Linked DNA regions of Homo sapiens. The protein of the gene in region 1 purifies or fractionates together with the protein of each later gene. This does not show direct contact. Each region holds a gene or a part of one and is shown on either strand. Other genes may lie near its edges. The genes, in order: NAT16 and FUT1.

Evidence for each region.
Region 2: the proteins of NAT16 (region 1) and FUT1 purify together in Homo sapiens (affinity purification with mass spectrometry; one large-scale study listed by BioGRID and IntAct). This does not show direct contact.

What each region holds. Positions count from the first base shown.
Region 1 is NC_000007.14:101,177,277-101,181,705, forward strand, and holds the start of NAT16 (probable N-acetyltransferase 16), read right to left. Parts: upstream 3,018-4,429; 5' UTR 2,766-3,017; intron 1,961-2,765; exon of another isoform or gene 1,821-1,960; intron 1-1,820. UniProt on the Homo sapiens protein: Probable N-acetyltransferase. Shows only trace activity toward L-His and no N-acetyltransferase activity toward other amino acids. The physiological substrate of this enzyme is unknown.
Region 2 is NC_000019.10:48,749,637-48,754,126, forward strand, and holds the start of FUT1 (galactoside alpha-(1,2)-fucosyltransferase 1), read right to left. Parts: upstream 3,006-4,490; 5' UTR 2,854-3,005; intron 1,648-2,853; 5' UTR 1,646-1,647; coding exon 548-1,645; 3' UTR 1-547. UniProt on the Homo sapiens protein: Catalyzes the transfer of L-fucose, from a guanosine diphosphate-beta-L-fucose, to the terminal galactose residue of glycoconjugates through an alpha(1,2) linkage leading to H antigen synthesis that is an intermediate substrate in the synthesis of ABO blood group antigens.

The DNA.
Region 1 (4,429 bases):
TAAGTTTCCTTGGCTTCCAGGCCAGGGGGGAGACCTCTTATTATTATTGTTGTTGCTTATTTGTTTATTTTATTTTGTTCTTTTGAGTCGGGGTCTCGCTCTGTCACCCAGGCCGGAGTGCAATGGCATCATCGTAGCTCACTGCAGCCTCAACCTCCTGGGCTCAAGCGATCCTCCCACCTTAGCCTCCCGAGTAGCTAGGACTACAGGCATGTGCCACCACACCTGGCTACTTTCTAAAATGTTTAATTTTTTGTAGAGATGGGGGTCCCACTATTTTGCCCAGGCTGGTCTTGAACTCCTGGGCTCAAGTGATCCTCCCACCTCCACTTCCCAAAGTGCTGGGATATTAGGTGTGAGCCACCATGCCCAGCCAAGATCTGTTTTTAGTGTATCTGGATCTCTGACCCCAGCCTGAAGAGCAAGGAGGGGAACTACTGGGTCCTTGAACAGGAGTTGAAGGGCCCAGGTGGGATAAGCTGATGAAGAACCAGAGATGCGGTTGCTAGGAACTCCCTCACTGTCTGGCCCACACTGTCAGCAATCCCTATGCCAACACACAAGCCTCCATGCCTGGAACCAGCCCAAGCCCCAGACCTCTTGCACCACGCTCTGAGGACAATGGGTCCCAGAGAACAGCAAGTTAGCTCCTGACTCCATCTGCAGCTCCAGGCAACATGAACCAGCTGTTCATGGGTCCCAGGAAAATGCAAGCTAGTGGTTCAGTGGTGCTTCCAGCAATACCCTCACTACCCCCAAAGGTGATAAGTTGTGAGCAACCGGTAGACTGGAACCCACCTGACTCATTCAAGACATTTGGCTCCAGTCTCCTTCCCTTGCTTACAGTGGGGAGACCCTTTCCAAATGGCATTTATACGTCTCAGATAAGGTTGTTTGTCGTGGGAGGTAAGGGTAGGGGTGGACGTGGGGAGTTCCCAGAGTCATGGGGAGGGAAGAACTTTCCAATGCATCCCCCATCTTTCAACCCAGGCACCACCTCTACCCCTGTTCCATTTTGGGGGACATGAACAAAGGTTCCCAGGTCCTTAAACCTTGGAGGAGGCGAGTAATAAAACAGGTCAGCGACTCCAGGCCAAGCCAAAGCTGTGGGCTAGCCTGTAACCCTTGCTTCACATGGTGACCACTTCCTACCCTCCAGTCCAGCACCCTCCAGCCTGGCTCCGTGGAACTCTTAACTCTCATCAGATGTCTAGGCAGAGGCGGAGGCAGCTGGTGAGTCCAGGGCACTGTCAGAAATGTAGTCCAGGTATCTCCTGGACCAAGCGCCCTCCTAAAAGAGGGACAGCATTTCTTGGCCGGGCGTGGTGGCTCATGCCTATAATCCCACCACTTTGGGAAGCCAAGGGAGGCGGATCATCTGAGGTCAGGAGTTGGAGACCAGCCTGACCAACATGGAGAAACCCTCTCTCTACTAAAAAAAAAAAAAAAAAAAAAAAATACAAAAGTAGCCGGGCGTGCTGGCGCATTCCTGTAATCCCAGCTACTCAGGAGGCTGAGGCAGGAGAATCGCTTCAACCCGGGAGGCCGAGATTGTGGTGAGCCGAGATCACGCTATTGCACTCCAGCCTGGGCAACAAGAGTGAAACGCTGTCAAAAAAAAAAAAAAAAAAAAAGAGGAATAACATTTCTCTCTTCATGTCTATCCCCACATCCTTGGGGACATTCTTTAAATCTCATAAATATGAATGATCTCTTTGGGGAGGGGGTGATCAGAGTCATAGCTGGGCATGATCGGAGTCAGAGCTGGGAATGCCGGCAGCCCACCCACCCGCACCCCACTCCCACCACACCCCACACACCTGAAATATCGATGCCCTTGAGGCCGATGGCTTCTTGACACTGGGGGAGGGAGGAGAGGGAGGGAAGGGAGAGCCCAGTCGCCGGAGAGGCGGAGACAAAGAAGGCAGCTGCACAAAGCGCCCAAAGATGAGAGCGAAAAGGACGGGAATGGAGGCAGAGAGCAGACAAAAGCGGACAGGAGATGCGGCCGCAGGGGACAGGCAGGGAAGCCGGAGGAGGCTTCGACACCGAATCACAGACATGACACCTCGTGACTCTGGGCCCAGCAGATGAAAAAAAAAAAATCCTAGCACGCACCCCCTCCCCTGGGACACTGTAAATAGAAAGCAGCGTGACACACCCCCTTCGCCCCGGGGTATGGGGGGCGGGGATCCGTGGAGGGGAAGGGGTCAAGGGGAAAAGAAAGTCAGAAAAAAGGCCGTAAGAGAACAACCTTGGAAACAGAGACGGGGAGAGGCGATGAAGTGGGGGCGGGAGAGAAGGCCTAGGGGGTGGGCAGAGGCAGGGGCCGAGGAAGATGGCCCAGCCAAAGGGGGTGGGGGGAGGGCCCCAGAGGGCCACAGTAGTGGAGAAGGGGGGGCTGTCCTGCAGGGTCTTCCCGAGTGAGGGTCTTCCCTCTGCCTCTACCCCGGATTGGGGGCTTGGGCTTGGGGGAGAGGGAGATTGCAAAGGGAGCGATCTGCTTGGCGGGGGTTCCCCTGGGCGCCGGACCCTGGGGACAGGTGGGAGCGACATGGCAACAGAGGGGGGCGGGGGAGCGCTTCTGGACACCTGAAGCGCAGCCTCTGACTCAGTTTTCTGGGTCTTCGGACTGGGAGGGGCTGGGCAGAAGGGGGCGCAGCCGCTTGGTCCCCCTGAGGGGCGGTGGCCTTCTGCTGCCCCATTCTGCGGTGGAGGAGCACGCTAGCCCCCTCCCCAGTCCCCAGGCCCGGCCGCCCCCCTACCTCGCCGGAGCCGGAGCTGGAGCCAGGGCCGAGATGCCGCAAAGCCAAGCGGGGCGGGCGGCGGGCGCAGACACCCCCGGTGCCAAGAGAGAGGTCCCTTTGGAGCCCCCAAGAGTCAAAGGAGGATGACGCGCGGGGACTCGGCCGCGCTGTCGGAGCCCGACTCTAACGTCGGTCAGCGCTGGGGCAGCGCCGCAGCTCCGTTGGCGACGCGGGCCGGGGCGCCCATCGGTTCAGGGGTTCGGGTGGCACGCGTGGCTCCCCCGGCGACGCTCCGGCGGCAGCTTCGAGGGGCGGAGACCCCGGCGACGCGGAAGAAACCCGGGACGGATCCGGAGCGGACTCGTGCCCTGCTGGCGGGGCCGGGGGTCGGGGTGCGCCCTGGGCAGCTGGGTGGCCTCAAGCCCTACTGGCGAGACTCCGCCCTGTGTCCCGGCTGGGGAGTGGGACTGAGGATGGTGGTGTCTCGGGTTTTGGTGGTGGTGATGCTGGTGTTGCTGGCTTAGTTATCTCCCCACCCCACGCCCAGCACCTCCGTTCTCTGTCCGGGGGTCCCCCACTGCCCTGAAGTACCCCTCCTCCAGGAGCCACCCCTCAATGGAATCTCCTCTCTCCATTATAAGAGCGGCTGGGAAGGGGACTCCGAGCCTTCGTCCCCGGAAACTGATAGAGGGAATCAGAAACCCTAGAACACCGGGAAGGCGAAGAGACATCAAGAGACAGAAGTTGAAAGGCTGAAAAGGGCAGAGGGAGGCCAAGATCTCTCCATCTTCTCACCACTGCGTGGGTGCCTGAGCACCCTGGTTCCCCGGGTGCACAAGGCCCCTAAATCCACAATGTACCCCACGGGACAGCAGGCAGAAAGACCTCCAGGTACACAGCGCACACCCAGGCACATTCACACAGACCTCTGCACTCAGGAGGCGCTGCACCCCACGCTGATCCTGGTGGCTGGGGAGGAAGAGGGAAGTGTGGAGCTGGGACCCGGGTGGGTGCAGCGCTGCCCCTGCTCTAATAAGGCGGTGGCCCAGGCTCTTAACTCCTACAAGGTTCTCCATCCCACCTATAAAGTGAGCTCAAGACTGGGTGCGGTGGCTCAAGCCTGTGATCCCAGCACTTTGGGAGGCCGAGGCGGGGGAATCACTTGAGGTCAGGAGTTCGAGACCAGCCTGGCCAACATGGTGAAACCCCGTCTCTACTAAAAATACAACAATTAGCCTGGCCTGGCCGGGCACGGTGGCTCATGCCTGTAATCCCAGCACTCTGGGAGGCCGAGGTGGGAGGATCACCTGAGGTCAGGAGTTCAAGACCAGCATGGCCAACATGGCGAAACCCCGTTTCTACTAAAAATACAAAAATCAGCCGGGCACAGTGGCCTGCACCTGTAATCTCAGCTACTTGGGAGGCTGAGGCAGGAGAATCGCTTGAACCCGGGAGGCAGAGATTGCAATGCGCCGAGATCGTGCCACTGCACTCCAGCCTGCGCGGCAGAGCGAGAATCCAACTCAAAATAAAATAAAATAATAAATAAAGTGAGATCAGAACACCTTCAGTTCTACCCTGTAAGGAGCCAGGAAAGTGATGGACAAAGCCCTTTAGCAACTGTAAACTGCTTTGGAGATGCAGGGAATAATTTTTTTTTTTTTTTTTTGAGAGGAGTCTCA
Region 2 (4,490 bases), on another chromosome or scaffold:
AAAGATTCTTCACCTTAGTTATCTGGATTTCCAGAACCCCATCCTGTCCATAAGGGCCCTGCAGGGTTCTTCACAGGCATCAAACCTGGTCCTCTCTAGAACAAGTCTCCCTCTAGAATCACTCCAGAAACACAGAAGGGGACTTGGTGAATGCTTGCTCTGGAGCAATCATATGCTCCTTCAGTCTTTGGAGGACCCAGGGGAGAAGTAACCCCTCTTCTAGAGTAGACCAGAGGGAGAGTTCCCCATTCCTGGGGGCAGCCATCTGGAAGTACTGTAGATATGGGCTGGGAAGAGCAGGTGGGCACTGTGGCTTCTAGAACTGCCTGCCAGCCATCAGGAAAAGATGTTTTGCTAGTTCTAGAATATTCAGACAGTTCCAGAAACGTCCCCCTTCTCTCCAACTCTCCCAACTAGAATCACTCTGGATACGGGCACCCATTTGCTTCAGGAACACCACAAGCTTCTCCAGAAGATGCCAGGCCTCTGAAGCCACGTACTGCTGGCTCTAGAAAGATCAGGCTACTTCAGAAAGTCTCCCTGGCTCTCAAGGCTTAGCCAATGTCCAGAGTGGAGACAAGTCTGCATTAATGCCCACCCACTCGGGCAGGAAGGCCGCCTCCGGCTTAAAGATCTTCAGGAACTCAGAGTCTGGCAGGGTGAAGTTGGCCAGGTAGACAGTGTCTCCGCCAGCCAGGTAGGCAGCCCAGAAGCCGAAGGTGCCAATGGTCATAATGGTGTGGTTGCACTGTGTGAGCAGGGCAAAGTCTTTCCACGGTGTAGCCTCCTGTCCATCGCCAGCAAACGTCACATCGCCCTGGGAGGTGTCGATGTTTTCTTTACACCACTCCATGCCGTTGCTGGTGACCACGAAAACGGGGGCTTCGTGCCGTGCCCGGAACCAGTCCATGGCCTGCCGGAGGTAGGCGCTGTCGCCCACCACACCCTTCCAGCGCTGAGGCATAACCTGCAGATAGTCCCCACGGCGCACGTGGACGCCGACAAAGGTGCGCGGGCGGTCCCCTGTGCGGCCCAGGCGGAGCTGACCCAGCACACTCTGCGCCTCTTCCCGAAGGTGGTCGTGCAGGGTGAACTCTCTGCGGATCTGTTCCCGGAGATGGTGGAAGAAAGTCCAAGAGCAGGGGAAGCCAGAGAGCTTCAGGAAAGGATCTCTCAAGTCCGCGTACTCCTCCGACATCCAGTCGTGAAGCTGCAGCTCCCGCCACGGCGTGCGGCTGTCCACTTCTGGGGCCAGCACGGGCAGGGTGATGCGGAATACCGGGGCCAGGGCGGCATGCATGGCAGGCAGGATAAAGGCCCGGCGGCCGTTGAGCTGGGCCAGAGCCAGCAGCGTGGCATACTGTCCCATCTGATTACCAAACCGGCCATTGGGGTAGACAGTCCAGGTGCCGGAGAGGGAAGCAGGGTGCTGGGGACAGGAAGAGGAGGCGTTGGGGCCCATCGCAGTACCCGGCAGGCAGAAGATGGCCACTGGGGGTGTCACCAGGCGGCGGTCTGGACACAGGATCGACAGGCCTAGGCCATGTGGAAAGCTGTCTTGATGGATATGGAGGAAGAAGATTACAGAGAGGACACAGACTAGCAGGAAGGCCAGGCAGAGCTGACGATGGCTCCGGAGCCACATGGCTGCAGGGGAGGAAAGGCGAATTAGCAAATGCTCTGAGGCTGAGGAGGGGAGGCTGAGGAGGGATGTGGGGTAAGGGAGGCGCCTGGGGTGCAGCACTCCTTAGTCCCAGGGAAAGAGGAAGTTAAAGGTTTAGACTCCTGGGGCTGAGGTAGGGAGAGCCTGAGTCCTAGGTTTCAGGGATGAGAGCCTTGGAATTTCGGGGCATGGGGACTGGAAGACAAGTGGTTTTCAAGATAGCCATGGTTTGGCTGGGCACTGTGGCTCACACCTGTAATCCCAGCATATTGGGAGGCTGAGATGGGAGGATCCCTTGAGCCCAGGAGTTCAAGATCAGCCTGGGCAACAGAGCACTCTTACAAAAAAATTTTAAAATTAGCTTGGCATGGGCCAGGCGCGGTGGCTCACACCTGTAACCCCAGCACTTTGGGAGGCCAAGGTGGGTGGATCACCTGAGGTTGGGAGTTCGAGACCAGCCTGACCAACGTGGAGAAACCCTGTCTCTACTTAAAATACAAAATTAGCCGGGCATGGTGGCGCATGCCTGTAATCCCAGCCACTCGGGAGGCTGAGGCAGGAGAATCGCCTGAACCCGGGGGGCGGGAGTTGCGGTGAGCTGAGATCATGCCATTACACTCCAGCCTGGGCAACAAGAGTGAAACTCCGTCTCCAAAAAAAAATAAATAAAATTAGCTTGGCATGGTGGCACATGTCTGTGGTCTCAGCTACACCGGATGCTAAGGCGGGAGGATCCCCGGAGCTCACAATGAGCCGCGATAGCACCGCTGACTGCACTCCAGCTTGCGCGACAGAGAGGGACCCTGTCTTAAAAAAAAAAAAAAAAAAAAAAAAAGAAAGTGGTCCAGGTTCCTACACCTTTCCTGAAGGAATCTCGAGTCTCCCCTCCTGTAAGTTCCGCTGATACTGGACTCTTCCACCAGCCTGTTTCTCAGGAGTACCTGTCTGTGAGGCGCAAAATCCACCACAGAGGTGGTGATGGGAAACGATAGTTCAAGTAAAACAAGAGAGGCTGGAGGGTCAGGAGCGGAAGGAGCATCTTGGTTCCTGGAGGAGTAATGGCTGGGGAGGTGGCGGAGATTCCTAGGGCCTTAGGAAGACCTGGAGAAGAGGTTGGGGGTGCACCTCCTGGTTCTGAAGGAGTTGTTCCTGGGTCCCAGGAACAACTGAGTGGGGCAGTCCCCACTTACCCGAGCTGCTTGCAGGTGGCAGATCCACAGTCCGCTTTTCGTGGCCGGAGCGCACCCTCCGCAAAGGCAGGCCACATCCGGCCGCCCCTGGAACGCCAGGCGTCCGGCTATCCGGCCCGGCAGCCCTCCCCTCCGCGCAGCCTGTCCGGACTGGCAGCGAGGGCTTGGGGAGGAGAGGAAGGAGAGGGCGCGGCCGGGAGTCTCGCAGCGTCCGCCCTCCCGGGCCGGGCGGATGGCTGGAAGGTGGAGCCCCGCCCGTCACTTGGCGCCGAGCCCCAGCGCCAGGGGCTAAGGCGATGGCCCCTGGGCCCACCGCTCCCCAGATCGGGGATGCAGGGGACCGCGCCCTGCCCCTCCGCCCCGTCATTGACCTGCGCGAAGGCTTCACCCAGGGCAGGCTACCTGGCTTCTGAGCAGCCGCAGCATCATTGCGTGGACCAGGAGACGGAGCGCCCAGTTGCAATGCTGGAGCCGGGAGGTCCAATCCGCCGCCCTCTCTCTTCCGGTGCCAGGGCTTAGAGTCGGCCCCCGACACCTGGGTGCTTCGAGCCTGGCCACGCCCCAGCGGCTGGGCAGGGCCCCCGCACCTGGTCCCGGCGAGTGGAGCGATCGTCCGCCCTCTGCCGCGTCCTCCTGGGGGATGGAGAACCTGTTTGCCAGGCTGCCGCCGGAGCGCGCGAGGGCCTCCAGCCTGCAGGTGCTCCCGCGCCCACCAGGGTCTCCGATCTCCCACACCCCCCGCCTCACCGTCCACACTCAAATTCCAGAATCCCAGCCCCTAGTCACTCCTTTTGGGGAATTCTAGGGTCCCGTGCCAAACTGCTACTTTCCAGACCTGCACTGCACGAAGGCAACCATTCCAAGGCTGGAGACCGGAGTGGAACAGGGTCTGTTTCCCACGCCGTCAGCGGGGGCCGTGGCTGCCGGCGCCAGAGACAAAGGCCTCTGCCCGCTTGTCACCTAATTAAAGCATTTTCTCTGGTCCAAGGCCCACCTCCAGCATCGCCAACCCCGAGCAGGGCAGGCTAACGTAGGGTCCAGCCCTACGGGGCTTTGCGGGTGGGTGTTCTTCCCCTGTGAGGAGAGGAGAGATTGTAAGAAATAAAGACACAAGACAAAGAGATAAAGAGAAAACAGCTGGGCCCGGGGGACCACTACCATCAAGACGCAGAGACCGGTAGTGGCCCCGAATGGCTGGGCGCGCTGATATTTATTGTATACAAGACAAGGGGGGGCAGGATAAGGAGGGTGAGTCGTCCAAATGACTGATAAGGTCAAGCAAGTCACGTGATCATGGGACAGGGGGCCCTTCCCTTTTAGGCAGCCGAAGCAGAAAGAGAAGGCAGCATATGTCAGCGTTTTCTTCTCTGCACTTATAAGAAAGATCAAAGACTTTAAGACTTTCACTATTTCGGGCGGGCGCGGTGGCTCACGCCTGTAATCCCAGCACTTTGGGAGGCTGAGGCGGGCGGATCACAAGGTCAGGAGGTGGAGGCCATCCTGGCTAACACGGTGAAACCCTGTCTCTACTAAAAATACAAAAAATTATCCGGGCGCGTGGTGGAGGGCGCCTGTAGTCCTAGCTATTTGGGAGGGTGAGGCAGGAGAATGGTGTGAACCCAGGAGGCGGAGATTGC